Linked DNA regions of Homo sapiens. The protein of the gene in region 6 purifies or fractionates together with the protein of the main gene of each other region. This does not show direct contact. Each region holds a gene or a part of one and is shown on either strand. Other genes may lie near its edges.

Region 1 (4,346 bases), on a different chromosome or scaffold from region 6:
ACTGTGGCTGAAGAGGAGAGTTGTTCACCCAGTGTAGAACTAGAAAAACCACCTCCAGTCAATGTCGATAGTAAACCCATTGAAGAAAAAACAGTAGAGGTCAATGACAGAAAAGCAGAATTTCCAAGTAGTGGCAGTAATTCAGTGCTAAATACCCCTCCTACTACACCTGAATCGCCTTCATCAGTCACTGTAACAGAAGGCAGCCGGCAGCAGTCTTCTGTAACAGTATCAGAACCACTGGCTCCAAACCAAGAAGAGGTTCGAAGTATCAAGAGTGAAACTGATAGCACAATTGAGGTGGATAGTGTTGCTGGGGAGCTCCAAGACCTCCAGTCTGAAGGGAATAGCTCGCCAGCAGGTTTTGATGCCAGTGTGAGCTCAAGCAGTAGTAATCAGCCAGAACCAGAACATCCTGAAAAAGGTGAGAAGGAAAATGTGTATGTTGACTTATTTTAGGGTTTCCCCTCTTAAAGTTTCAATGATTTCACAGTATCTCTTGTTATAACCTGAGGCGATTAAGTGTCATATTTGTGTGAACATGGTAAAAATGGAAATTTTAAAGGTAATTTGAAAATGAATAGTGGAATGCATTTAAAAGCTTGAGAAGGCTTTAATGTGCTTTGCTTGAGCCATCCATGGCATTTTATTGTGGACCAGAACACATGCTAGAAATTGCACCCAGGCCCAAATCCAAACCTGTTTGAGAATTCATTATATGCAGTGGTTGACTATATGGCATGAGCAGCTTAAATCTATTTCTGTAACATTGTTTTTGCAATTGTAATGTGCAGTTTCTCACGAACATTTTGATTTATTGACAGACCCCTCCACCCTTAACCAAATACTGTATGTAGGGGTTTGGAGCAACCAACTGTCCAGGCACTGCTTTCCTCAGACAACCGTGTCAAACTGATTTTCAAGCCTGACTAACTTGTGTGAGTTTGTAAAGGAATTTGATGCTTTCTTAGATGCATAGCTTCCAAATTGAAGGACCAATGTGTACGTTAATAACCTACAGTAATACTTTTTTGATTTTCCGTGAAATTGTTAAAAGTGGAAATTCAAATCGGTACCTTCCCAAAGTATTAGTGCCTTTCGATGGTGCCATAGCCATACTTCTGTCATCATTTTTCTTATAAACCACTTCATTCAGGTATCTTTAAATCAGTATACTCTAGGCTGACACCTGGCTTTGGAACACACTTTTCCATCGTAAAGACAGAGCACTGGAGTATGTTTTTTATATACCGTAAAAGATTTTAGAATGCTAGCTTTAGGTTTTCAGCAAAGCTTAAAGAGATATGGTCTAGATCAAATTAGTTAATTCTATGTTTTCTCAGGAATCTTGACTTAAAACATTTCTGTTTTAAAATAAATTAAAAAAATACTTGCAATTAAATTGAAATGTTCTTTGCTTTTTTTCACATTTACAAGTATAACTACTATGATTTTATCTGTGCCATACTATCTCATGCAACTGAACTATCCAGGCATGACTAATCTTCAAAATGAAAGAATCCTTTATTTCAGAATATTAGGCTTTCAACAGTAAGATTTTACTGGCCAGGTGTGGTCACTCACACCTGTAATCCCAGCAATTTGGGAGGTCTGGGAGGTCAAGGCGGTGGATCGCTTGAGTCCAGGAGTTCAAGACCAGCCTGGACAACATGGCAAAACCCCATCTCTACCAAAAATACAAACGTCAGCCAGCTGTGGTGGCGCATGCCTGTAGTCCCAGCTACCTTGGGGGCTGATGAGGGAGAATCACTTGATCCCGGAAAGGCTGCAGTGAGCCAAGATCACGCCACTGCACTCCAGCCTGGGTGATAAAACAAGACCCTGTCTCAAAAAAAAAAAAAAAAAAAAAAGAAAAAACAAGAAAAGAAAGAAAAAAACAGGTTTTATTGTTATAGGTTTTCTTGGGGGTTTTTTTTTTGAGATGGAGTCTCGCTCTGTTGCCCAGGCTGGAGTGCAGTGGTGTGATCTGGGCTCACTGCAACCTCCGTCTCCTGGGTTCAAGTGATTCCCCTGCCTCAGCCTGCTGAGTAGCTGGGACTACAGGCGTGTGCCACCATGCCCAGCTAATTTTTTGTATTTTTAGTAGAGATGGCATTTCGCCATGTTAGCCAGGATGGTCTCTATCTCTTGACCTCATGATCTGCCTGCCTTGGCCTCCCAAAGTGCTAGGATTACAGGCATGAGCCACCGTGCCTAGCCTATTGTTGTAGTTTTTAAGAGGTTGTATCCTTATTATGTTCGTAATATCTTACAAAAGATTAAAATTAACAACAAAAAAAAAGAGGATATCTTCTCTGCTAATAGACTAAGTCAACACTGCCCTTTTGAATCTTAATCTTGACTAGGTTAATAATTGTGGAATTTGAAAGCTACTCCTAAATTTAGGGTAATTTATATCTCTTTAGAAATAATTGGTGTTTTTCTTTTTGTTGGGTTTTTTTTTTTTTTTTTTTTTTTTTTTTGAGACATAGAGTTTTGCTCTTGTTGCCCAGGCTGGAGTGCAGTGGTGCAATCTTGGTTCACTGCAACCTCCACCTCTCAGGTTCAAGAGATTCTCCTGCCTCAGCCTGCTGAGTATCTGGGATTAACGCCCGGCTAATTTTTGTATTTTGTTTAGTAGAGATGGGGTTTCGCCATGTTGGCCAGGCTGGTCTACGAACTCCTGACCTCAGGTAATCCACCTACCTTGGCCTCCCAAAGTGCTGGAATTACAGGCATGAGCCACCGCGCCCAGCCAGAAATAGGTTCTTAAGCACCTGTTTCACATGGCCACATTTTAATAAATTTACTTACTATGAATATTGGAGACTCCCCACTATATCACAAGTTAAAATTTAAGTTTTACTATTTAGATGTAGTTTTTTCCTCTTAATTTACTCTACATTGAAGGTTTTTATTTCTTAGTATCTGAACACTTTAGAATTAAACTCTCTTGGAGAGAAACCTGACAATTATGGTTCTGTGCTTCAGTATGGTCAATATCTACGTCTCCTTTATGTTTCACTTAAATTGTGATATTAAAATGACATTAGGTGGGTCACATACTTGGTGTAAAAAATAAAAAAGAAATATTAAAAATTTAAAAAGGTATTAGGAAAAGTTGTAAGTAAGATTATATGACCCATTAAAAAAAAGCTAGGAAGTTGCAGACAGTTAATTACTTGTCCTGTTTTTGATCAAGGAAGTTAGGTTTTATACACAGAAGGTTGATTTGGTGTCTGACATTGGAACTGAATGGAGATAGTACTTTATTAGTCTCTGGAGAAAAAATCTTACTTTATATAGTCTGAGAGATAACATATATGAATTAGACAGAAATATAGCAGATGTTAAGGACCAAATGAGTAGTATAGAAAAATGCTACAGTTCAGAGTAGTGATTGATCAGTGAAGCCTGGAACATCTTAGTGAAGATGTAGGACTTGGGCTAGTCCTTGAAGAAAAGGGAGACATTTATTTGTAATGTTTTGCAATAATTTCCCACCAAGAAGATGAGACGTTTTTTAGAACTACTATGTTGGATTTGTAAATGGTATGCATGTTAACCAAACAGTGCCCTGGGAGCTTAGTTATTCTTGACATAAATTGGTAAAAAAGAACCAAGTATGAATTACTGCTAAAATTTACCTCATTTATATCATTTAAAAATTATATTAATATGATTATAAGACATAATGTCATTAACATTTTAACCTGTGATTAAGTCTTAATATTTTGGTTTTATTGAATCTTAACAAATTTCAGTTTTTATTTTCAGCATATACTTTTAATTACTAGGCTTATAAACTCCCAGTACTATATTAAGGACTATTTTCAGTTTATATCTGATTTTTTTAAAGAAGGATGTGCATACTTTGTTTGCCTTTTTAAAAACCCTGACTTTTATTATGTATAAGAATTGAGCTTCCATTAATGACAGTTTATTTAAAAATTGTAGTAAGTTCTGTGACAACTTATAAATGTCATAAAGAACATGTAGTTTTGGATTGTTCTATGTTTCTAAAATGTGGAATTAATTTATACTTAGGGAATGTTGGATTTTATTTTGTGTTACTTAATTCCTTTCCCTTCATAGCCTGTACAGGTCAGAAAAGAGTGAAAGATGCTCAGGGAGGAGGAAGTTCATCAAAAAAGCAGAAAAGAAGCCATAAAGCAACAGTGGTAAACAACAAAAAGAAGGGAAAAGGCAGTAAGTGTGAAATCTCTAATTTTTAAAATATAAAAATAATAGCTGATAATTTTACCCCCAGTAAGAAAATGGTATTCAGGGTATGGGATAGTACACTATTTTGATTTTGTCTGTACACTCAAAAAAAGTCACACAAA
Region 2 (4,346 bases), on a different chromosome or scaffold from region 6:
TTTTTGGTCTGTCTTTCCCATTGAATATAAAGGTATATCTATCAATCAACATATTGAGCTGGGCACATATGGATTACAGAGACAGCCTTAAAGGAGTTTACATTAAAATAGATGAGATGAGGCATTGTTTATGAATAACACAATTCAGCAGAGACTAGCATAACGGAGGAGAAATTATATCCAGTTGAAGCTATTAGAAACTGACACATTGACCTGAACCCCGAAAGAATGAGGAAAATTTTAATGAGCAGTGATTCAGAGGTGGAAGAAGATAGAAGCTGTATGAACAAAGGCACAAATTTGGGGAAATACAGGCCATGCTACTGGAGCATTGAGTGGTTTCTTTTGGGTAGACTTCATAGTGTGTGCGTGGGAAGGAGCAGTGAAAGATGAAGGAGATGGGAGCCAAATCATCAAGGATACTGACAGTGGGACAAAGAATAGGCAACTTACAGAACCAAAGATTTTTGAACAAAGGAATGGTGTGATTTTATTTATTCCTTAAGTAGAAGACTACTTAAGGATATGAGAAAATTATAAGAGAAAAAATTACCATAAAGGAACCAATAAGAATAGACTGTTAAAACAGTAATGCCCCTATGGACAAGAAAAAAGCAGTGGAATTGGAAAAGAGGCAACAGATGAGAGATCATTAATTGAGGATGATGTAGAAAGCCAATACTTCTTTTGAAATACTACTTTAAAAAAAAAGACTGATAACTTTCACAAACATTACGAAAAATTCCAAAACATAAAGCAACTACCTTATTCAATATTTCTGTCAAATTGGTGATTTTTCCAACTCCAGCATTCCCTCTACATTCACCAGTCATCCCTTGGCATTCTGTTGTAAGCAAGAGCCTTCCCTCCCATCTCCTCCACTTATTTATTGGTCTTTTATCAGTAAGAATTATAAATTCCTACCTTCTCTGTGGCTTATAATTTATTACTGTAATGAATTATTTTGATGCTCAAATTGTCCTTGATTTGGCCAGTGGGAGCTCCTTCCAGCTGGCTGCTGTATTCTTGGCCCCATCATTCATTCATTCATTCCTCCCTCCGTCTCTCTCTCTCTCACTCGCTCACGCACTCTTGCACTCTCTTACCTTCTGGCATAAGATGTTCCAAGCTCCTCTTGTACCTGCCCTGCTGTAGCCTTGGAATCCGCTATTTCTCCAAAGAGCCCTGTTGAACATTGTTTTTAAACTATGTTAAATGACATACGGTGGGCAAGGGCCTCCATGACTAGGGATGTGGATGGGGCAGGAGAAAGAGCAGGCTCTGTGCTCTCATAACTCTCCTTGTCACTCAGGTACACCCTGGTGGGTGGTATGGCTAAAAACCACAGAACTGGAGATTCTTTTTCCCTAAAGATCGGGGTCTCATTATGTTGCCCAGGCTGTTCTCAAACTCCCATGCTCAAGCATCCTCCTGCCTCTGCCTCCCAAGTAGCTGGAACTACAGGTGCGCACCACCACAACCAGCTCTGGAGGGTTTTTTTCCTTATTTTTCTGAAGATTCTTTAAAAGAATATTAAGAATATACTTTGATTCTAACACTTAGAAAAATAAATAAATCATTTTACTTTTTGTGTAAAGTATACCTTTATTTTGTTTTGTTTTGCAAGGTGAGGGAGTTAGCATGGAAGAGGGATTGTGGTTACACTTTAAGATTTCATTGTCTCTGTAATTTCTTTACTTCACCCTTCAATCTCTGATTAACTCCTAATCATAGCTGTGCTCACTTCTGTTAAATCAGTATCACCCTTTCCCATTTCCATTCTTGATATCCCTTGACTTTGAAGAGATAGCTGATTTTTCAAATGTATTAATTTATCTTATAAATTTTTAGCCCTTTTTAAAATGAATTTTTCAAGTATTAGTATCTGTTTTATTTATTGCTGCCTCATTTTTAACTCTTTGTTTATGCTTTAAGGGTTACCATCATGAAAGATAAAGATACCAGGAAGAGTAAAGGGGTTGCATTTATTTTATTTTTGGATAAAGACTCTGCACAAAACTGTACCAGGGCAATAAACAACAAACAGGTAAGCTATTCATCTCCATCAAGGTTTTTAGCCCCAAAGCCTTTATGCTCATCCAGGCCAAAAATGTGGGGATATAGTGGATCATCAGGTCTAGCAGATATCAGTAGATTCTTAAGATATCTAACTTATAGAAAGAAAAGAGGTCAAACTACTGGGTTCTCAAAACATTGGTGGAATCTCAGGAATAAGAATACTACAGAATAGAATTTATCACACCTAAGTGACAATTGCTAAAAAATCCAAAATAAACTGGAATTGAAGATTTGAGAAAATTGATTAAATAATTAATTTTAGGTTTCAGTGAAATACATTCTACATTTACATTTTTCTCTTGTTTAGTTATTTGGTAGAGTGATAAAAGCAAGCATTGCTATTGACAATGGAAGAGCAGCTGAGTTCATCCGAAGGCGAAACTACTTTGATAAATCTAAGTGTTATGAATGTGGGGTAAGTAAACCTAAAACTTAATGGAACTTTCCATAGTTTAAGATACTTTTCACATCAGTCTTTTATTTTTGCTCACCAAAACTTCTGACTGGCTAAACCAGATTATGAAAATGCTTTATTTTTTAATATTTATTTTTTTGAGATAGGGTTTTCCTCTGTCACCCAGTGCAGTGATGCAGTCACAACTCACTGCAGCCTCTACCTCCCGGGCCCAACTGATCCTCCCACCACAGTGTCTGAGTAGCTGGGACCACAGGCATGCACCATCACACCCTGGTTAATTTTTAAATTTTTTTGTAGAGGCAGGGTCTTCCTATGTTGCCCAGGCCAATCTCAAACTCCTGGGCTCAAGCAGTCCTCCCACCTCAGCCTCCCAAAGTGCTAGAGTTACAGGTGTTAGCCATGGTGCCTGGCCTAGTTGTTAGGGTCTCTAAACTCATCAAAGTAAATTCAATTGAAATGCAATGTGTAAAGATAACCTGAGTTGGGTAATACAAAGTGGTATTTTCTCTAGTTCCTAAATCTTTGAAAATCACTAGTTTTAAAAGTGTTAGACTGATTACTTATGTCACTGTCTTGCAAGATTTTCGTAACTCATAAATTTTTGTTAATAGGATATTGCCTGTTTCTTTAACAGTTTTTAAGTCACAGTTCAATAGCAACATTATCATGTGACTTTATCCTCTATGGGATATTGTGTTTTGAAGTTTTTTATTTTTTCCTATTAGTATTGCTAGTGTTTTGTAACTGAACTATCCCCACATTTTCTTCTTTGGTTCTCTTCATGATCTGTCATTATCCATTTAAAGTTTTGGTGATGAAGAGAGAGAGACAGCCATAGAATAATTTTGTATAAGGTCTGTATTGGTACCAAGAGAATTTTAGTCTGGTTCTCACAGGTGTAAGTTTGTAAAATGACCATAAAAATACTTAAGAAACAGGCCGGGCACAGTGGCTCACGCCTGTAATCCTAGCATTTTGGGATGCTGAGGTGGACGGATCACTTGAGGTCTGGAGTTCAAAAGCAGACTGACCAACATAGTGAAACTGAGTTTCTACTAAAAATACAAAAAAAAAATTAGCCAGGCATGGTGGCAGGTGCCTGTAATCCCAGCTACTTGGAAGGCTGAGGCAGGAGACTCGCTTGAACCCAGGAGGTGGAGGTTGCAGTGAGCCGAGATTACTCCACTGCACTCCAGCCTGGGCAACAGAGGGAGACTCTGTCTCAAAAATAAAAATAAACATAAAATAAAATACTTAAAAAACAGAGTCCAGAGGTAGTAATGGGGAACTGGGGAGAGAATCACTGAAAGATACCGTCCTGGCTACAAAATCACATGGAAGATGCAAGGAAATGGCTTGAGGTCCTCTACCCCACTGTCACTCCCCATACCCCCGACAAAAAAGATAACTAAATAAACAGACTGATGGATGGATGAATAGAAAGAGTGAGCAAGCAGTTGCTTGGATACATACTGATTCTGTCAATTCCTATGATTCTAAAACCTCTTAAGTAAACACTTTAGAAACTTTTCCAAAGTTTTGAGTTTTGTAAAAGAAAGAAAGGGAGGGAGGGAAGGTAGTTATATTCAGATTAGTATATATCTTCATATTCACAGTAAATATTAAATTATCTGAGAAATCCTAGATGAATCTGTTAATCGGTTCCTTTTGGTTTATGGATCCATAGAGTTGTTATATTTTTTACATTTTTATATTTAATTTCCCTCCCTCCAAAAAAAACTTTTTTATATTGACCTAGCCTGGTTTTTCTCAAGTTATTTCATTAAATCCTTTTTTAGTATGGGATATGTTAATTTTTTTTTGCTATAATATTATTCCAAAACAGTTT
Region 3 (4,346 bases), on a different chromosome or scaffold from region 6:
AAGAATCCTTAAAACGGGCACACGTTTCTCCACTCTTTAAGGTACACTTTAAGGGAAAAGTAAATCAGTCCAAGTAAGCATAACACACGGACCTGCTCAAGGGAACTACCAGGTGATTTGGTGGGAAGTGCGCCTCCAGGGGAGCTGGGCTCACCCTGCATCCCATTTACCTCTTGGCTTCCTTCTTGGACATTGCCACTGGAGGTCTTCCTCCTGTGAACCACAGCACATCTCTAGAGAACTTTTCTTTACTATAATGTTTAAAAATAAGTACACAAATTTAATAAATACATCTATGAGAAATAAGTTATTCAAAGAATAGGTTTTTGAGTAATTGGTTAAGAGGCATGTTCATTTTTCTGCTTTTAATAAATCTTTAGAGGACATCGCTTACTTCGTACTATTGTCAGTAAATGTATATTCAGCTGGAGAAGATACTTGGGAAAATATTCAGTGTGTGCATAGATATAATTCAGTACTAAAAGATTTTTAAATGTTAGATAAGTGTTAGAACAGCTAGGAATTTTTTTTGTACCAAAGAACTAAGTAAATCAATAAAGATAATCGGTTCTTTAACCTTCTTAAGGAGTCAACAGGAATTAGAAATTATTTGCAGTTTCAGACAGAATAGTATTTTGTGGTATCCTCAGGAGCAATCTTGTTAGATAATTAAATCTTAAGCATCAATATCATTTCCTGCTCTGAGTTCAAATAATATGGAGAAAATAAAGAAAAGGGATATAAGCCAGGCAGCATGCTATGCCAGAGGCTGTTGCTGGGCAGATAAGTGTGGTGAAATATAATGCTGATTTAAAATTGTATAGAAATTGTGAAAAATATTTGTAATATTCTTGCTTATTCACAAAACACTTTGTTTTAGGGACTTAAGTTCTGGTTACTTTAAATCATCTTCAGGCATACTTAACATGTGAAAATGCTTACATTCCAAATTTACATAGCTGGATTCCTCTTCCACTTCAGATTGAGTGCTAGTAGGAGAATAGTACCTTCATAATGTCATAAAATTTGAAATTTTGTCAAAAATCTCAGGGCAGAATCTATGAGAATTATGTACTCTAAAAATTAAAGCATTTTAAGAACATAATACATATATTTTCATTTAATTTTAGGCAAAATATTTTTACATCACACCTGGAATCTGCCCAAGTCTTTCCACTATGAAGGCAATCGTAGAGTGTGCAGGAGGAAAGGTGTTATCCAAGCAGCCATCTTTCCGGAAGCTCATGGAGCACAAGCAGAACTCGGTGGGTAGAGTGGAGTCCGCCAGCGAGTCCGTCATTGCCCTGTATCACATTCAGCGTTCGGTCACTGAGAAACTCATTTTCTTTTCCTTAGAGTTTGTCGGAAATAATTTTAATATCCTGTGAAAATGACCTTCATTTATGCCGAGAATATTTTGCCAGAGGCATAGGTACGTTTCCCCGCTTACCTGTGTGAGTATGTGTGCACGCACAGCAGTGGATCTCTAACTAAAGTGTCTGTTTCCACCCTGTTCAGATGTTCACAATGCAGAGTTCGTTCTGACTGGAGTGCTCACTCAAACGCTGGACTATGAATCATATCCTTTCCAAAAGAGAATTAAAAAGTAGACGGGTTAGATATGAAATGGATTTCCCAGGTTAATAAGGCAGTACCTTTCCTGTTTTGCAAGCCATTTTTCCTTTCTTTGCTATTGTGATTTATGCAGTGAACAATTCTTTTCTCTTCAGAATATTCATTTGAGTTGCTAGTAAAAATATTCTCTTAACTTACTGAGAGTTCAGTTTTAATAGGTGATGTTAATTAGAAAGGATCTATACTGTCTAGTTTATGGAGGTATTAAAGAATTTGACAATTAGATAAAATAGAAAATAATTGCAAAAATAAATATATGTTTCTTTTTATCAGCTCACCTTTGAGTTTGTAGTTTTCCAAATGAAATTTAGTTCGTATATAGTCTTTGTACTCAGGAACTTTGGGATGGGAGATAAATTACTACTAAATGGAAGCGGCAGAATGAATACTTCATCAACATGTCAGGAAAATGCAAAGGTCAGTCTTTAGAATATTGACACCTAGGCTTTTTTCTATTTCAGACATTCAGGAAAAAATAAAGCTCATCATCTGTTATTTGAATTCCTTATTAAAAATCTCTGAATTATTATTTTAATGTAGGAACAGCCTATCAGTGAAGCAAAACATGCCTTACAGGTCCTTATGGGAAAATTCTGTTTCCACTTCCGTTTCCCATTGCAGAGCACCTTCTCTCAGGGCTGTTCTCAGGACTTCTCCCTGGGCCTCCTGCAATGAGGCTGGAGCTCCTCCTCTCTGTGAGGGTGGGAGCCTCTGCCACCTCTGACCAGTGTCAACCTCAGTGGACCTTTCCTTAAGCAGGGGAATTTTGTGTTTGGGATAGGACTGCTTCAGTAAGGCGCAGAGGTCAGAATGATACCCATCCTTGCCGAGTTTTTTTTTCTTCGTGTGTGCCTGTTTCATCCAGGTAATTACATTTAAGTATATTTACATTTAAATACACTGACATTCATCCAGTTAATTACATTTATCAAACATTTTCCTCTTAACGCTAAAGAGCTTATGGTTATAATAGTAGACAGAAGACCTTGATATCACTGAGAGAAAAGCACTTTTAAGAAGTAAAATTTGGCCGGACGTGGTGGCTCATGCCTATAATCCCAGCACGGGAGGCCAAGACAGGTGGATCACCTGAGATCAGGAGTTCGAGACCAGCCTGGCCAACATGGTGAAACCCTGGCTCTACTAAAAATAGAAAAAATTAGCTGGCCATGGTGGCGGGTACCTGTAATCACAGCTACTTGGTGAGGCAGGAGAATCACTTGAACCTGGGAGGCAGGGGTTGCAGTGAGCCAATATCGCGCCATTGCACTACAGCCTGGGCAACAAGAGCGAAACTCTGTCTTTAAAAAAAAAAAAAAAAAAAAAGAAGTAAAATTTGCCTCAGTCCCAGAATCCAATGTCATGTTTAGCCATAAATAAATAGCCTGTCTAGTTGGAATGAGGCTTGGTGCAGAAACGCTCTTACCATTCATACCAGAGCTTGCTGTATTCCATACCGCCATCTATTAGAAAATTATTGTAGGAGCTACTGATAGGAATGATAAGAGGCCTGTTAAATTTTTACAGATATGCTATAAGCATTTGGTTTTTATACAACATGTACTCTTGCATTTTTTCCAGACTTTTTCCTAACATTCATGTTTGTATTTGTGAAAGCCTGTTCTACACTACATTTACTTTCAGAAGAAATTGCTTTAAAAGTCATACAGGAGACTTATGAGTATTACCTTGGGGGCCTTTTTTCATATCCATAGCTTGATGAATTTTGCCCAAAGTGGACGGTTTAGAATTGCAGAGGTCACTACCTGCTCCTGCAGGTATAAGTAGGAGTCAGCTATTTGTGGTGGGGCTTTGGGGATGTCAGCTCTTGGGGGTTGTGTGTTGTACATGTTAATTTAAAGGACATTTCAGCTATTGCTGGGCCTCAGTTCTGGCCGCATGGTGGATACCTTGCGGAGCTGGCACAGGTGCTGATGTCCCCGGGCTGAGTGAGCCTGTGTGTCGGGGCTGAGGGCCTCCTGTGATGTGGGTATGCAGCAGAGCGACTGGTTTGAATGGGTAAGAAAGAGGCTGTAGCATTCCTTCAAGGGTGTCTCTGAAACTGGATGATGAATGTTGGAACCCTTGGTTTCATGTTTTTCTTTTGCCTTGTGTTTGAAAGTCGTTTTCCTCAACAAGCCTACATATAAGTTTAACTGATGGCGTCTAGGCTGCCGTGCATGTCGACTCCTGCGGTGCGGGGCTGGCTGTCTGGCTGGCGAGGAGCTGCTGCGCTTCCTTCACATGCTCTTGTTTTCCAGCTGCTTTCCTGGGGGATCAGACTGTGAAGCAGGAAGACAGATATAATAAATATACTGCATCTTTTTAAGATGTGCAATTTTATTCTGAGGAAACATAAATTATGTTTTGTATTATATGACTTTAAGAGCCCACATTAGGTTTTATGATTCATTTGCCAGGTTTTTAAATGTTTTCACAAAACTGTTACGGGACTTCAACTAGAAATAAAATGGTGTAAATAAAGACCTTGCTATCTCTAAATTATGGATGTTAAAGATTTGAAATGTTTTGTACTTTGATTATTTTTATTTCTTATACTCTGTTTTCTTTTATATTGATATCTTGCCCACATTTTAAATAAATGTACTTTTGAACTTAGAATTGAGTAATCCTTTATTATTCCACATTTTTTGCATAACTTATAATTTGCATCAAACCGGATCACATTTTAAGTAATTTCAAGACAAAAT
Region 4 (3,500 bases), on a different chromosome or scaffold from region 6:
GTCTTGTGCCTCTTGCCTCCTCTGGATCCTAGGAGTTCTCTTCATTCATCAGCGATAGAAAAGTAATGGAAGATTGAATGTGAGGTTTTTATGGTCCAGGCCTTTTACTCACATTTTATTGGCCATAACTCAATTAGCCATGTGACCTCACCTAACTGCAGCAGGAATGGAAACTATATTCTGATTGTATGCCTAAAAGGAAGATAATACAGGATTTGGCAGAAACATGTCAGTATGCCCCATTTATACCATATATTCACAAACACAGGATAACTGTAAATATAAGACATACCTACATTTTCACAATGAGACTATCCAAATAAAGGGTTTTTTGTGCTTAGCTTGTATGCTTAAAATATTTACTAGTTTATTTACATATACAACTCTATGTAATATATAAAATAATACATTCATTTAGAAATACTACCTTATTCAAATCTCAGTTTTTATGAAACAGGTTTTTGTTTTGTTTTGTTTTGTTTTTTTTATTTTTATTATTATTACACTTTAAGTTTTAGAGTACATGTGCACAACGTGCAGATTTGTTACATATGTATACATGTGCCATGTTGGTGTGCTGCACCCATTAACTCGTCATTTACCATTAGGTATATCTCCTAATGCTATCCCTCCCCACTCCCCCCACCCCACAACAGTCCCCGGTGTGTGATGTTCCCCTTCCTGTGTCCATGTGTTCTCATTGTTCAATTCCCACCTATGAGTGAGGACATGCGGTGTTTGGTTTTTTGTCCTTGCGATGGTTTGCTGAGAATGATGGTTTCCAGTTTCATCCATGTCCCTACAAAGGACATGAACTCATCAGTTTTTATGGCTGCATAGTATTCCATGGTGTATATGTGCCACATTTTCTTAATCCAGTCTATCATTGTTGGACATTTGGGTTGGTTCCAAGTCTTTGCTATTGTGAATAGTGCCGCAATAAACATACGTGTGCATGTGTCTTTATAGTAGCATGATTTATAATCCTTTGGGTATATACCCAATAATAGGATGGCTGGGTCAAATGGTATTTCTAGTTCTAGATCCCTGAGGAATCGCCACACTGACTTCCACAATGGTTGAACTAGTTTACAGTCCCACCAACAGTGTAAAAGTGTTCCTATTTCTCCACATCCTCTACAGTTTTTTTTAAACTTTTCATCTCTACAGCCACTCTTTGAATATTGTAACAGATTTCTAGAGCACATGTGATTTGTGTAAGATAAGGGTTGTTTTGATTTCTGTCTAGATAATGTTTTGTAAATATTATCCCAAACAGTGCACTGGTTTATATAACATTTTTACATTTGTTTTCTTAAAGAGGTCTTTAAAAGGCTTCTGACAGGCCGAGCACGGTGGCTCATGCCTGTAATCCCAGCACTTTGGGAGGCTGAGGTGGGTGGATCGTCTGAGGTCAGGAGTTCGAGATCAGCCTGACCAATATGTCTCTACTAAAAATACATAAATTAGCCAGGCATAGTGGCACATGCCTGTAATCCCAGCTACTTAGGAGGCTGAGGCAGGAGAATTGCTTGAACCTGGGAGGTGGAGGTTGCAGTGAGCCAAGATCACGCCACTGCTCTCCATCCTGGGCAACAGAGCAAGACTCCGTCTTAAAAAAAAGAAGTCTTTTGACAATGATTCCTAACTTGCAATGGAGAAATTACATAGTCATAGGACTGATTAAGAAGTCTATATTAAGTTTTTTTGTCTCTCTTTTTCTTTCTGATTCCATCTCCTAAGTTCTGTAAGCAACTAAAATGTGCATTGATGCATATCTTTTCATACTAGTGTATCTTCGCCAAATAAGACTTGGTTCAAAATCATGTAAAATGTTAAGATACTATATGGACTAGAATACAAGTTGCCACCTTCATATCTGGAGATTAATGTTACAACTAAAAAAGAACTTTGTCTTATATTCTTGAGTAGACTTAGTACTATTTGCCTTGTAATAACCACTTTTGGTTCAATAACAGACGGGAGTGGAATCAACTTATAGCCTTTAAAAATGAGTAAGCACTATCAGTATTGTCAGACTCAGTGGAGTGTCTTAGCTAAGATGTGAATTTTCTGGCTACATCTGCTTCATGTACACAGATATCATAAGCTAATGATGTTCCTTTGAAAATACATGATGCCCTTCTTTTTTGCCTTCCATGCTAGTACAACAGAGTGATTCCTTTCTTTATGTTGTTATAAATAAGACAGCACAGCATAAATTAAGAGGCACTCAATAAACATCTACTTATAAGTGTTAGAAAGCATGTGTGTCAAAATTGACTACTTGTATATAAATTTTCAACTTCAAACTATTCCCTGTTAGACTTCAGTTTTAAATTGTGAAATATTCCATTTAAGAAAACAAAATTTCTTTTTTTAACATTGGTTTGAAAAAGATGAAATTTACTTCTCCTATATGCTCTTTAAGTATATAGTTATTATTATTTTTGCTTTCTCTTCCTAGATTTTCCACAGAATGAGCCTCAGATCAAGAATCAGTTTAATAAGAAGCTATCAGGAAGACTTGAAAATACAAAACAGCAATTGCAGCTGCCTCTTCATCCTTCATGGGAAGCAAGCAGAAGGCGAAAAGAACAGCAATCTAATATTGCTGTGTTTCAGGGGAAAAAAATTACGTTTGATGATTGATTAGTGCCTCTTTCTGCAAACTTTTCCATCTAAAAAAAAAAATGTTTTTTTTAAGACAGGATCTCATTCTGTTGCCCAGACTAGAGTACAATATTGCAATCACAGCTCACTGCAGCCTCAAACTCCTGGGCTCAAGTGATCCTCCCACCTCTGCCTCCCAAAGGGCTGGGACTGCAGGTGCATGCACTACCATGCCCAGCTTTCTCACCCCAGGCTCTGCAGCTATTACTTAAACTCGTATTTGAATAAGTCTCTTGGGGAGAATTATAGAATGTTTGTTTTTGTATTTTTTTTTAAAGTAAATTCAACTTACGCTTATATAAGCCTTTCACAAATCCAATATGTACTTAAATTGATTTTTAATAATATCCCTCAGACTGTTTCCCTTATGAAGTAATTTGGGGATTTTAGTGATCTCATATTTTCTCTTTAGTGCTTATCATGAAATGTGCTTCACTGGTTCAGCTCTGTTGTTTCCTTAAACATAAATGTCAATATATATTTAAAATAATAATGGAAACATAGGAAATCAGCTATTTAAACCAGATCACCCTTGTTAAAAATCATTCTTGTTAGCAAACTAAAATAGTAACTTTTATTATGGATGTACAGATAAATATTAATTTTATTATAGTTTTAAGTACTTGTGATCATGTACTTTTTGATTCTAAAATAGTTGTCTAGGACAATTTTGGGATTCTTAATTATATTTTAGTTAAGAAAATTGTTTAAATATAGCAATACAACCAATAATTTGTTTTATGTTTCACTGCATATAAATATTTCCATTAAATCAAGAATGTATATTATCTAGTTTTTACTATACTTATTTTAAAATTTTTGAGGAA
Region 5 (4,346 bases), on a different chromosome or scaffold from region 6:
CAGAGGGGAGAGAAAAAAGGAAAATAGGAAGAAACATGAATCTATCTATAGAAAAGTAGGCTGGGTGTGGTAGCTCATGCCTGTAATCCCAGCACTTTAGGAGGCCAAGGTGGGAGGATTGCTTGACCCCAGGAGTTCAAGACCAGCCTGGGCAACATAGGGAGAACTGGTCTTTAAAAGAGAAAGTAAAAAGGAGGGGAAAAAATGAGTAGGACATGGTGAAGGACCACAAGTCTAATAGTACTATTTGTTTTATTGGGGCCACCCCATGCCCTGGGTTGGTTGTCCACACTGTGGTCACAGCCTTAAACAGTTCTGGAATCATAGCAGTCTCTCCATTGGTTGGCTACTTGTCTTCCCTCTTTATGTTGGTTTTTTTTTTTTTTTTAAGCCGTGGAGGGTTGGGAGAGAAATAGGCATTTTATTTGATGCTGATTCCCTGTAGCTGCCTCTTCCTTTCCTTGTGATTTTTGCCAGGCAGGTGACTGGCCTTTCGTTTGTGTGGTTCATCTGCAGTGCCCTACCCGCTTCCTTTGCTCTTGCCAAGGCCAGTGGAGAGCTCCTAGCCAGATCCTGCTGTCATCCCTTCTAGAAACCGACTAGACTGTCTCCCTGATCCTGACTTCCTAAGCCCTCATGCCCCGCCTCCTCCTCCACCTTTCTTTGAAAGTTGTTTTTTCACTTCTCCTTTGTGCAAGTGGTTTGTTTGAATGTATAAACTTTTTTTGCTGTATATTTTTTTTAGTCCTCTTAATTTCCCCCCCGTTGATGGTTTTACCATTACAATGAAAATGGAAACAGCTGACATTTAGCCAGCCTTGCCTATAAACGCGGCTCTAAGTGATACAGATTAACCACCAAGGCAGCTCCTAGAGAGGGAGAGAGTTATTTCCAGTGTAGAGATGAGGAAACTAAAGCACGGAGACATTGAGTAGCTTCCGCGAGTTGCCTAGCAGTGTAGGCAGAGATGGGATTTGAATCCAGGCTGTCTGAGCGTAGAACTGGTCTTGTAAACTGTCTATAAATTACTCAACCAAGCGCATCTTCCATGTTTTTCTTCTATAAATAGGGATGAGGTCAATGTCTTTGCACATATCGATGCATCCATCCAGGTATTTTTCTCAAATAGAACAAATTCCTCAAAATAGAATTACTGAGTCAGGGAATATGCCTTTTAATTTAATTTTTTTTGATATTGCCAAATTGTCCTTCATAAAATCTGTCGACAGTACATGAGTGTGCTCAGTACCCCAAAATCCTGGCCGGGTCTACATATTTTTGTACATTTTGCCCCAAAGAAAGGCATCTCATTTTGGTGTTCATGTGTTTTGTTACTCGTGAGCATGAATGCCTTGTTGCTGCTGTTGGTTGTTCTATGCCTGCGTTCATGTTTGCATCCTTTTTCCCGGTGTGCTCACGTCTCTTCCAGGTCTGTAGCGTGCTTTGTAAGTGAGGGATGAGCTTTCTGTCCTTGTAGAGATTTGTCCTTTTCTCCCACCCACCTCCCGGGAGAAAAGCTGTGGGTCACTGCTTTCACTGCACAGCACAGAGTAGAGACCCTGGCTTCCCCCAGCAGGGTGGGGGCTGGGGCTTAGGCTGAGCGGAAAAGGACAGGAGGAGGATGGACTGCTGGTCCCCTTACTTTCCCCTAGTCACCTTCCCTCCTTCCAGGAAGCAAGGGCTGGGAGCAGCTAAGAGAAGCTAGGATTTCTTAGGAGAGCTTGACGCCTATTGGTGAGGAGGCATTGGAGGGGGAACATGCCCCTTACTCATGAACTGAACAGATATTTCCCGCCAGTCCATCGTTGGTTTTTTTAACCTCACGCTAGTCTTTTTTGCGGTGGAGAAGTTTTTCTTGTTCATGGCCCTATCTGTTGAGCTTTCCCAAAATAGCTTCTAGTAAGTGTTGTGTACTCCAAGCAATCTGTCCTCGTTATTTTTCTATTTTAACTGGTGCTTACTCTGAATTTCTACTTTTAGTCTTTTGTGTTAGAGTTCCACTTTGAACCCAACGACTACTTTACCAACTCAGTCCTGACAAAAACCTACAAGATGAAATCAGAACCAGATAAGGCTGATCCCTTTTCCTTTGAAGGTCCTGAGATTGTGGACTGTGACGGGTAAGAAAATGTCATTCTACCTTGTTTTTCTGAAACAAAATCAAAAGATAATTTTGTAACTTGATGGGTAAGATAGAAGTAAGGAATAAAGTACAGTCTTGAGTCTGCTTAAAAGCCTAAAAGCCTGGTAGATGTATATTTCAATAGTCTTTCAGTTTGGGAATGCTCATAGTGCAGAACTTGGAGATGGCGGCTGAACCTGGGAAATGAGTCACGTGGTTGCACATGCAAGCCTTTGGGATAGTGCCCTGTTTCTTCATTTTAATGAAAGTAGTGGATTCTCTAGACATCGTGAATTGAAGTTCTTAAAATTGAATCCATGGATTACCCTCAGCAAATAAATACTTATTGAATGAATGAGTCTGAGTCCAGGGCTATATTGATCAGCTGATTGCTTTGGAAATAGGTGGGGGCAGCATAGCTGTTGTTTGACTCACTGATTTCAGTCTTTATAAATCACTAAAGAGAGAATTTGGTTTAGAATTAATTTCTCCAGGTTGGGTTGACTGAGAAATGGTTTTAGTCTTGACTTGAAACAATTACGTTTATTTACCAGAAGTAAATAGTAATTGTTAATTCAGGACTTTATTAAAATCCTGCTAGAGTAATTTAGAAAGATGATTTTCCAGGGCCAGGACATCATGTGAGAAAAAGGCCTGGCCTTACCAAGCATGTTCTTAAGCGGGCAGTATTGAGATCTGCCAGGTGTTGCCTGGGTCTGTGGTGATTGTGTGTTAGAGAGAGCGTGCTGTGCTCAGCCCTCGCCAGCATCCCTGGGGCTGGAGTGGTCTGCACTGGCCATCAGTATTCCCGGTGGCCACCTCTTTCCTTTTTTCAGCTTGTCGTGCTCAGTTGGCTGCTTTGAACAGCAGCAACTCCTCCTTCCTTGGGAAACCGCGGACAAGTTCTTGTGCATCATGCAGACTTGACGGGGCTTTGCCACAGAATATACATTTCAGAGTCCTGATGAAATGTCTTGGGAAAATAATACCATTGTTCCAGAAGTCTGAAGTTCCAGTGGTCACACCCAAGTTGAAAGAGGACCAGGCTGTTTCTCTTTTTGCCAACCTCCAGATGAACTTCATGGGCCATTGTATTTGGTTTGCAGATTGGTTTTATTTCGTTTTCCAGGTTTGGCATAGAGCTGTGGTTTGCTTCCTGCATGCATTTGTAATGGATTTTTCTCATGGATTGTGTGTTCCTGACAGCTGTCTTGTCCTGGTAGGTGTACTATTGACTGGAAGAAAGGAAAGAATGTTACTGTCAAAACCATCAAGAAAAAGCAGAAGCATAAGGGTCGAGGCACTGTTAGAACAATTACGAAACAAGTACCCAATGAGTCCTTTTTCAACTTCTTCAATCCATTGAAAGGCAAGTCTGTTGGTTGTTAATATTCATTATGTTCTTATATAAAATAATTTTGGTCACCTGATAGATTCCTAACACCCAGAGACTTTAGTCCTCTTTTTTCAGGCAAGTGTGGTCAGTAGGGGCACATTGCTGTGTCCCAGGCTGTTCTGTTGGTGCGCTGGCAAGTTTATCGCGGGGGGCAGAGGTAGCTAGGACAGTAAGAGTAGGATTGTCATCTTCTGCAGGAAAGGGAAGAGCTTTACTCTGCTTGGCTGTAGCCCAGGCAAAAACTTGCAGTTCTGTTTTAAGAAAACTGAATCGAGTATTTGCACCTGGGCTGCTTCCTCACTTGGACACCTGGAGCACCCTTCTCCACCAGCTGGCATTTCTGCCCCGCTGTTGTGTCTGGTTCGCACCCCCCGGGGACCACTCCCAGCCTCGGAGAGCTGCTGGGTTTGCTCTGCAGGTACCCGTTACTGCTGTACGCTGGTTCTAGTTGTGCTGCTTTTGGATCATCTGCTTAGTCCCCCTTTTCTTGTAATTTTTTATGCATAATTTGATAGAATTTTTTGGAATTTATATATTGTAAGAAACACAAGTAGTTGGGACTTTCATTTTTGAAAAACATCGGCAGAATCACAGCTTGGAAGCTGCTTCTTTTTGTTTATTTATTTATTTTTTAAATTTTCCTAAGTGGTAAAATAAAGATGAGACCTTTGAGCTAGTAAAGGTTGACCAATTGATTTTAAGAGTAAATTTCTTGGGATTTTTCATATAATTTCCTAATCGCGAGAAAATGTGAAGGTCAAGCAACTTGTCAGTGTTAAAATATCCATATTCTCTTTAGTTTCCATGAACTAAAACATAATTTGAAGT
Region 6 (4,346 bases):
TCAGCTGCAGCTGCCACACAGAGTGGTGCCCCCAACAACGTCTGTACCACAAATCGAGCTGTTTCTCCCACCACCTCCAGTCCATAATGTTATGGCCGAGTTTTTAGGAAATGGCAGAAGTGAGTGTAGACTCTTAAGAATGCTGTTAGAAAAAGCGGATTCATCCAGTTCTTACTTGCTCAGTCAACAGGTGACTGCATAGGAAAGTGGCTTGCAGGGCTTTTCTGTGTTTCTTATCTAAAGTCATTCTCTCCTGACTTTACATTTCTGCTTAACAGGCACTTATATCATCTTTGCCAGATGTTTCCTGAATCTGCAAGTGACGCTATCAAATTTGTTCTCCGAGATGCGATGCATGAGATGGAAGAAATGATTGAGACCAAAGGCCGGGCGGCATTGCCAGGGTTGGATGTGGTAAGCAGAGTTCAGTCTAGGCACTGCCCCTGCCACAGAAGTTCTGTTTGGCATCACAGAAGGTGGACGACGGGTACGATGCTCTTGGCTGTACCCTGTGCTTCCAGGGTGATGTGGAGTGAGCTGCACGGCAGCGAGGGTGATCTGGAGTGAGAGTGCACGGCAGTGAGGGTGATCTGGAGTGAGAGTGCACGGCAGTGAGGGTGATCTGGAGAGTGCACGGCAGTGAGGGTGATCTGGAGAGTGCACGGCAGTGAGGGTGATCTGGAGTGAGTGCACGGCAGCGAGGGTGATCTGGAGTGAGAGTGCACGGCAGTGAGGGTGATCTGGAGTGAGAGTGCACGGCAGTGAGGGTGATCTGGAGTGAGAGTGCACGGCAGTGAGGGTGATCTGGAGTGAGAGTGCACGGCAGTGAGGGTGATCTGGAGTGAGAGTGCACGGCAGTGAGGGTGATCTGGAGTGAGAGTGCACGGCAGTGAGGGTGATCTGGAGTGAGAGTGCACGGCAGCGAGCCTGGGAGGGGAGGGCACTCCTCCACTAGCCATGGACTAACGTGTGGGTCGTGCAGGGAGATTCTGGTTTGATTCCACGTGAATGGTGCTGTATTTGGTCCAGTGACAAAAACATTGGAAGGCAAATAGAACCACGGTATTGTCCTTAAGGGCCCAAGCCTGTGGGCTGGTTTAAATTGGTCTCGGTTTCTATGTTATTCAAAGGTTGGGAGACATTTGTACGCTGAGATTTTTAACAATTTTATAACAGCCTCATGCTGTATTTTCAGCTTTAGTAACTTTAAGGAAATACTTGCTGAGATACGCTCTTTATTCTGTTGCCTGGTGTTTGTGTTGAAATGGATTCACAATAGTTAGCAGAAGCTTAAAAATGTAGGACTTAGGTTAGTGATTTTTAATCAACTCCCCAAAACATGATCTGAGCCCGTGTCTATAACCATTGTTGACTGCTTTGAAGTCTTCATGGGCCTCAGTGTCCTCACTGCACGTTTAGCTGGTTGACCCACGGTGGTTGGACGCCTGTTCTGTGACACTGAGGCCAGAGCTCTGGGCCAAGGAGATGCACCCTCTCCTCGCCAGATCCTGTTCTTGGCTCCGGAGTGTTTGCGGGGAGGGCATATGGATGGACTTCATTTACCTTCTTTAACCTGTGGTAACACTTTCTTTCCAGCTCATTTATTTGAAAATCACTGGGCTGCTATTTCCAACTTCCGACTTCTGGCACCCAGTGGTGACCCCTGCCCTCGTGTGCCTCAGTCAGCTGCTCACCAAGGTGCGTTCTCTCCACATGCGGCAGGGGTCGGCCTGCTGCACCACGGGTGGCCGGAGCCACAGCCCCTCGGGGCCTTGTGGAACATGAGTGTGGCTGTTTAAGGGCTGCAGAGACCGAGCACTGCGGTTAGGCCAAAGAGGGCCCATCTAAAAGAGCCCCGGCTCGAGCAGCCCCAGATGTGGGTGGGAGTGGGAGGGCCTGGTTTGGCACCTCAAGGTTACAGATGGTGCTACCCCAGAAAACAACCTTTCAAGTTAGTGGTGAAGTTATCCAGTGTGATGATAAGGGCTTTTGTTCCCTTTTTGGCTTAAAAAGTTCAAGCTGTTCCTTTTTCTTTATTAGGCATGTGATTGGTACATGCTTAGTGCAGTAATCGTACGCTCTGTATGGGTGGAAGGAACTTTATAATCAGTATAGCTCTGGCCAGGCGCGGTGGCTCACGCCTGTAATCCCAGCACTTTCGGAGGCTGAGGCGGGCGGATCACCTGAGGTCGGGAGTTCAAGACCAGTGTGGCCAACATGGCGAAACCCCGTCTCTACTAAAAATACAAAAATTAGCTGGGTGTGGTGCCACATGCCTGTAATCCCAGCTACTCGGGAGACTGAGGCAGGAAAATCACTTGAACCCGGGAGGTGGAGGTTGCAGTGAGCCGAGATTGTGCCATTGCACTCCAGCCTGGGTGGTAAGAGTGAAACTCCGTCTCGGGAAAAAAAAATCACTAAAGCTCTTTATCTTGTTTTCATCTCATTTGATGCTCTCGACACTGCTATAAGGTGCGGGGGTTCCCTCTGTACTTGTGAAGCTCAGTGGGGTGCGTGGTTCATCAGGGAAGCCCGGTGGTCGGCCTAGCATGGCATGACATCGTCCCAGGACAGTAACCCCCCATATGTTCCTTTCCAGTGCCCCATCCTGTCCCTCCAGGACGTGGTGAAGGGCCTGTTCGTGTGCTGCCTGTTCCTGGAGTATGTGGCTTTGTCCCAGAGGTTTATACCTGAGCTTATTAATTTTCTTCTTGGGATTCTTTACATAGCAACTCCAAACAAAGCAAGCCAAGGTGAGTTGATTTGAGGGAGGTTCCTACAAATATGTTATACTTTAGAATTTTTTTAAGTAGTTCATACTCATTGTAGAAAGTTTAGAATATGCGAAAGTAGAGGAAACACACAACCTGCCACCCGCCGCACTGTCTGTCCCTCTGTGTGAGCGTGTGCACGCGCCACATGGGGAAAAGCAGTGCTACCGGTGACCTGTGCTGTCCAGCGTGGTTGCCAGGGGCCAGAGTCTGAACTGAGACGTACCCTACCTGTGACATATGCCCAAGTGGCGAAGACTTAGTGTCAGAAATACTTAAAATATCTTAATTTTTTGTATTATGTGTTAAAATCATAATATTTTGGTATTTGGGGTTAGATAAGGTCTATTGTTAAAATCAATCTTAACTTTTTACTTTTTCTCACGTGACGACAAGGCAGTGTGAAAGTTCTCGTGCAGCTCACACAGGCCGCGCTGCTGTGTCGCTTCTCTTAACGCTCTGAATTCAGGAGCGAGGGCGGCAAGAGCAGTGTTGGGATGAGGAGCAGTCTGCACACTGGCTGCCCTCCTGGGCCCTCACCCCAGCCCCTGTGCTCCTCCCCCTTCCCCTGATGCCAGCCCTGCTCCTGGATGCTTCCTCAGCACTTGCTGCTTCCCTCTGGGGGGTGAGGAGCTGCACAGCCTCTTCCTGAGCTCTTCCATGTCTGTGGACGCCTCTCCCAGCCTGACCAGAGGTTGGACCTCAAGGCTCAGACCCCTGTCCTCTATTTCCAGCTCACCGTGCAGTGCTAAGCGCCTGCATGTCCAGGGGACTGACCTGAGGAGCAGGTGCTGTGGCATCATTCACACCACCAGCAGAGTCCCTTCCAAGAGGGGTCTGGCCCACTCTTCCGGTTCAGTGCTCCCATTCTGCCACCACCTGCCTCCCAAGGCTCCTGTCTGTCAGGCTCGGTGCTGGGCGCCAGAGGGGCGCGGCCGCCCACATGCTCCCTGCCTCCGGGAGAGCCACCTGTAGATAGCTGCAGTCCCACGTGTGAAGGGCTGTGACGGAACAGGCTGGGCACAGGTGGAGTCAAGGAAGGGGTGGGCATCTCGGCTTTGGGGAAGTGTGGGGCGGGGCCTGACCCACGCCTTCCCCTCTCGCTTGGCCCGGCACCTCTGCCCCACTGTACCCACTCTCCACCCCTCCCCGTGTAGCCACACCCTCGGCCTGGATTGCCCTTCTCCGTGGCGAGTGAATTGACTCCTGCGTCCTACAGGCCTTTGCTGACGTCTGCCCCTCAGGCCTCTCCCGCCCTCCACCGTCACCCCCGACTGACTCTCCTGTCTCCCTCCTGCCCCTCCACTTTCCTTTCTCGTGTTCTGTCTGGTCCATTTGCTCCTCTGGGTGCTGTGCACTGCCTGTCTCCCCGACAGGGGCAGGGACTTCAGTCTGTTCCCGGATGTGGCCTGAGCGCCTCATCAGCCCCATGTGTGCCTAGTAGGCCCCAGGAAGTCTGTGGCCAGCAGGCCTCTCAGGCAGGATCAGGCACTTGGCTCTCACCGCGCCCCCTGCCAAAGCTTTTCCCCTCCCCTGAGGTGTCCCTGCCCACGCTGAAACCCTCAGTGTCTGGCA
Region 7 (4,346 bases), on a different chromosome or scaffold from region 6:
CATGCCTGGCTAATTTTTTTATTTTTTTGTAGAGATGAGGTCTCTCTATGTTGCCCAGGCTGGTCTAAAACTCCTGGGCTCAAGTGATACTCCCACCTTGGCCTCCCAAAGTGCTGGGATTCCAGCAGTGAGCCGCTAGGCCCAGCCCATTTGAAAAATCTTACTGGAACATTTACTTGCTCAGCAACTGCTGAGAGGAAAACAAATGCAATTTACAGGATGTTCAAAACCTACACCATTCTAGAAGCTAAGCTCAGCTGGAAGCTCTGCTTACCTTTGCTAGTGGAAGGCTTCGCTGGAGGCCGCATGGTTTGTATGAGACGCAGCAAGTTACTAATAAGAGAATCCTTTGAAAAGAAACATAGAACGAAAATTGTCAGCTCCCATATCAGTGCTTAAATACACTTAAAAGGCAAAGAATGTCCTGTAGGGAAGGGTGGTTACGCACTTGAATTTAGCTAATTGGAATACATGAAACATAGTGTGTCAACCTGGTGTAGCATGAACCTAGTATAATAGCTTCAGAGAAAGCCGATATTTAGGACTCTTTGGGGAGAAAAGTTATTAGGCTCCCTGCAACCATTTTATTTCCCAAGGTTTAGAACTACCCCCAAAACTTGTTTCCAACTTCCTGACTCACAGAACAAGAATGTAAATACCTACAAAGACTTAATGATGAAAATCCTGCCCTGTTTTCCTAGAGGTATCACAGAAAATCTGGTTAAATCATCACTACTTAATGGCATGAAAACATTACACACTTAATGGCTTATTTAATTGATATGTATAAAATTGTCTCCTTCCTATATCAAAATCCTATATTAAACCCTATCAAAATTTAAAATCAATAGTGACATTAAAACATAAATTATGTAATCCCAGCACTTTGGAAGGCCGAGGCGGGTGGATCACGAGGTCAGGAGATCGAGACCATCCTGGCTAACACGGTGAAACCCCATCTCTACTAAAAATACAAAAAATTAGCCGGGCATGGTGGCAGGCACCTGTAGTCCCAGCTACTTGGGAGACTGAGGCAAGAGAATGGCGTGAACCCGGGAGGCGGAGCTTGCAGTGAGCTGAGGTGGCGCCACTGCACTCCAGCCCAGGCGACAGAGCAAAACTCTGTCTCAAAAAAAAAAACAAACAAACAAACATAAATTAAAACATTAATATCTACAGATTATCTTCTCCACATATACATACCGTAAATTCTGCACCATTTTTGACGAGAGAAGCCTTAAAAGTATCAAAGGTGGTATTTTTCTCAGCAAGACTGATCACAAATTCAGCTGCAAATAAGAAACAGAATTCAGAAAAGAAGAGACATGAACAAGAAATCAGTTTCAAGTATGGTGAAAACAAAACTAATTAGGTTATCCAACAGTAATAAAAAACAAAGACCACCATCTGGTAAGGGTAAAGAGAGAAAATCTGGCCAGGTGTGGTGGCTCATGCCTGTAATCCCAACACTCTGGGAGGCCAAGGCAGGCGGATCACTTGAGGTTAGGAGTTCAAGATGAGCCTGGCTAACACAGTGAAACCCCGTCTCTATTAAAAATACAAAAATTAGCTGGGTGTGGTGGCAGGCACCTGTAATCCCAGCTACTTGGGAGACTGAGGCAGGAGAATCACTTGAACCCGGGAGGCAGAGGTTGCAGTAAGCCGGCATTGCGCCACTGCACTCCAGCCTGGGCAACAGAGTGAGACTCCGTCTCAAAAAAAAACAAAAAAAACAAAACAAGAAAACAAGAGAGAAAATCTAGACTGCTGAAATTATCCACACATATTCTAGAGAATTTATACAAATGAAAGGAAGATATTACTACAAAATGGCTCAATGTAGCCCTTGAGTGCATTTAAACTAGGAAGACCTATTTGACCCACATCATGGTACCCTCTTCTCACAAAACCACTACCTGGGCACGCTGCCACCTAGACTAGACTGTAAAGGTGACAATAAAAAGCATGAGCCCATGTAGACACACAGAGGCACACAACAGAAGGACAGACCCAATCTGTATATGAGGGCCAGGCAGCTGCTGGGTGGTGCAATCTCCACATTGATGAAAGACTTTTTTGCCAAATTTTTCTCCACAAACCTGCCTAGTTCTTCTTTTTTTTTTTTTTAAGACAGAGTCTGGCTCTGTCGCCCAGGCTGGAGTGCAGCGGTGCGATATCGGCTCACTGCAACCTCCACCTCCCGGGTTCACGCCATTCTCCTGCCTCAGCCTCCCGAGTAGCTGGGACTACAGGCGCCCACCACCACGCCTGGCTAATTTTTTGTATTTTTAGCAGAGACAGGGTTTCACCATGTTAGCCAGGATGGTCTTGATCTCCTGACCTTGTGATCCACCCGCCTCAGCTTCCCAAAGTGCTGGGATTACAGGCATAAGCCACTGTGCCCGGCACACCTGCCTAGTTCTTGAAACTTTCTTTTTTTCTTTTTTTTTTCTTTTTTTTGAGACGGAGTCTCGCTCTGTCGCCCAGGCTGGAGTGCAGTGGCGGGATCTTGGCTCACTGCCACCTCTGCCCCCTGAGTTTAAGCGATTCTTCTGCCTCAGCCTCCCAAGTAGCTGGGGCTACAGGCGCATGCCACCATGACCGGCTAATTTTTATATTTTTAGTACAGACAGGATTTCACCATATTGGCCAGGCTGGTCTCGAACCCACGACCTTGTGATTTGCCTGCCTCGGCCTCCCAAAGTTCTGGGATTACAGTCATGAGCCACCGCACCTGGACTTTTTTTATTTTTTCATTTTTTTTTAACAGTCTCACTCTGTCTCTCAGGCTGGAGTACAGTGGTACGATCTTGGCTCATTGCAACCTCCGCCTCTCGGGTTCAAGCAATTCTCTTGTCTCAGCCTCCTAAGTAGCTGGGATTACAGGTGCCCTCCACCACGCCTGGCTAATTTTTGTAGTTTTAGTAGAGACGGGGTTTTGCCACATTGGCCAGGCTGGTCTTGAACTCCTGACCTCAGGTAATCCTACTGCCTCAGCCTCCCGAAGTGCTGGGATTACAGGCATGAGCCACTGTGCCCGGCCTAGTTCTTGAAACTTCTAATATTAGAGCTATTTATTAAGCTACTTTCAGACAGTGGCTCACGCCTGTAATGCCAGCACTTTGGGAGGTTGTGGTGGGCAGATTGCTCGAGCCCAGGAGTTAAAGACCAGCCTGGGCAACATGGCAAAACACCATCTCTACAAAAAATACAAAAATCAGCCGGGGGTGGTGGTATGCATCTGTAGTCCTAGCTACTCGGGAGTAGACTGAGATAATAAGCCTCATACTATGAGACCCACAAAAAAACTGTAATGCTTTCATTTGAATGCTAATCCTAGAAAAGTAAATGAATAAATAACATGAAAGATCTAGATGACTAACTCATAAAGTAGTACTACCATACAATTTCCATCCTGGAATGTGCCTTTATCTTTCTGATAAAGTGAAAGCCAAATGCCATCAGGCTACACGAACACATCTTATGCATAATAAGTTAGTAACGATAATGTCAATGGTTAATACTTTTTGAACATTACTACGTGCCAGGCACTATGCTAAGTGCTTTTTATGGGTTACTTCATGATCCCCAAAACAACCCTCATAAGTAGGTGCTATTATTGTCATGTTTTACAATGAGGAAGCTGACGGTTTGAGACACTGACCTACCCAATAATAACTGGGGGGAGCTAGGAATAAAACCCAGGCAATCTAACTTCAGAGGCTACATTCTTTCAAGAAATGTGGAGGGAGAACTAAGTCCCATGGTGCTAGGCATGTCATGCTCAAAAGAGCCCCTCCCAAAGCAGTCTGAAGCACATTCTCACTGCCAGCCATCAGTAATCTTTTTTTTTTTTTTTTTTGAGACGGAGTCTTGCTCTGTCACTAAGGCTGGAGGGCAGTGGCACGATCCTCTCACTGCAACCTCCCCATCCCAGGTTCAAGTGATTCTCCTGCCTCAGCCTCCTGAGTAGCTAGGATTACAGGCGTGCACCACCACGCCCTGCTAATTTTTGTATTTTTAGTAAGACAGGGTTTCACCATGTTGGTCAGGCTGGTCTCGAACTCCTGACCTCGTGATCCACCCGCCTTGGCCTCCCAAAGTGCTGGGATTACATGTGTGAGCCACTGCGCCTGGTCCCATTAATCAGTATTTTTAATTTTCACAATTATACAGGGGAATTGTTAAATTAACTGAATCCATTATAAAAAATTAATTTATAGTTTAAAAAAATTCATTGGTGAAAACAGTAAAAATAACACTAATTTAAATGATAATCCAGTATTACAGTTCTTTTAGAATTTGTCTAGCAGGTTTTCCAGTTTTCATCGGAAACTCTACTATCT

The links.
Region 1: the proteins of NOP14 (region 6) and ARID4B fractionate together in Homo sapiens (co-fractionation; one large-scale study listed by BioGRID). This does not show direct contact.
Region 2: the proteins of NOP14 (region 6) and ZCRB1 purify together in Homo sapiens (co-immunoprecipitation; one large-scale study listed by IntAct). This does not show direct contact.
Region 3: the proteins of NOP14 (region 6) and PAXIP1 purify together in Homo sapiens (affinity purification with mass spectrometry; 2 studies listed by BioGRID, with this or other methods). This does not show direct contact.
Region 4: the proteins of NOP14 (region 6) and SRFBP1 purify together in Homo sapiens (co-immunoprecipitation; one large-scale study listed by IntAct). This does not show direct contact.
Region 5: the proteins of NOP14 (region 6) and NAP1L4 fractionate together in Homo sapiens (co-fractionation; one large-scale study listed by BioGRID). This does not show direct contact.
Region 7: the proteins of NOP14 (region 6) and DHX8 purify together in Homo sapiens (co-immunoprecipitation; one large-scale study listed by IntAct). This does not show direct contact.

What each region holds. Positions count from the first base shown.
Region 1 is NC_000001.11:235,177,663-235,182,008, reverse strand, and holds part of ARID4B (AT-rich interactive domain-containing protein 4B), read left to right. Parts: coding exon 1-424; intron 425-824; coding exon of another isoform or gene 825-916; exon of another isoform or gene 917-938; intron 939-4,095; coding exon 4,096-4,209; intron 4,210-4,346. UniProt on the Homo sapiens protein: Acts as a transcriptional repressor. May function in the assembly and/or enzymatic activity of the Sin3A corepressor complex or in mediating interactions between the complex and other regulatory complexes.
Region 2 is NC_000012.12:42,315,488-42,319,833, reverse strand, and holds part of ZCRB1 (zinc finger CCHC-type and RNA-binding motif-containing protein 1), read left to right. Parts: intron 1-1,935; coding exon 1,936-2,047; intron 2,048-2,386; coding exon 2,387-2,494; intron 2,495-4,346.
Region 3 is NC_000007.14:154,943,598-154,947,943, reverse strand, and holds the end of PAXIP1 (PAX-interacting protein 1), read left to right. Parts: coding exon 1-41; exon of another isoform or gene 42-46; intron 47-170; exon of another isoform or gene 171-251; intron 252-1,091; exon of another isoform or gene 1,092-1,130; coding exon 1,131-1,265; exon of another isoform or gene 1,266-1,351; intron 1,352-1,356; coding exon 1,357-1,432; intron 1,433-1,450; exon of another isoform or gene 1,451-1,518; coding exon 1,519-1,579; exon of another isoform or gene 1,580-1,584; intron 1,585-3,323; exon of another isoform or gene 3,324-3,779; coding exon 3,780-3,795; 3' UTR 3,796-4,254; downstream 4,255-4,346.
Region 4 is NC_000005.10:122,024,475-122,027,974, forward strand, and holds part of SRFBP1 (serum response factor-binding protein 1), read left to right. Parts: intron 1-2,467; coding exon 2,468-2,652; 3' UTR 2,653-3,500. UniProt on the Homo sapiens protein: May be involved in regulating transcriptional activation of cardiac genes during the aging process. May play a role in biosynthesis and/or processing of SLC2A4 in adipose cells.
Region 5 is NC_000011.10:2,957,544-2,961,889, reverse strand, and holds part of NAP1L4 (nucleosome assembly protein 1-like 4), read left to right. Parts: intron 1-1,980; coding exon 1,981-2,120; intron 2,121-3,345; coding exon 3,346-3,491; intron 3,492-4,346. UniProt on the Homo sapiens protein: Acts as a histone chaperone in nucleosome assembly.
Region 6 is NC_000004.12:2,942,480-2,946,825, reverse strand, and holds part of NOP14 (nucleolar protein 14), read left to right. Parts: intron 1-278; coding exon 279-414; intron 415-1,596; coding exon 1,597-1,698; intron 1,699-2,599; coding exon 2,600-2,753; intron 2,754-4,346. UniProt on the Homo sapiens protein: Involved in nucleolar processing of pre-18S ribosomal RNA. Has a role in the nuclear export of 40S pre-ribosomal subunit to the cytoplasm.
Region 7 is NC_000017.11:43,486,392-43,490,737, reverse strand, and holds part of DHX8 (ATP-dependent RNA helicase DHX8), read right to left. Parts: intron 4,341-4,346; exon of another isoform or gene 4,280-4,340; intron 1,290-4,279; coding exon 1,204-1,289; intron 348-1,203; coding exon 275-347; intron 1-274.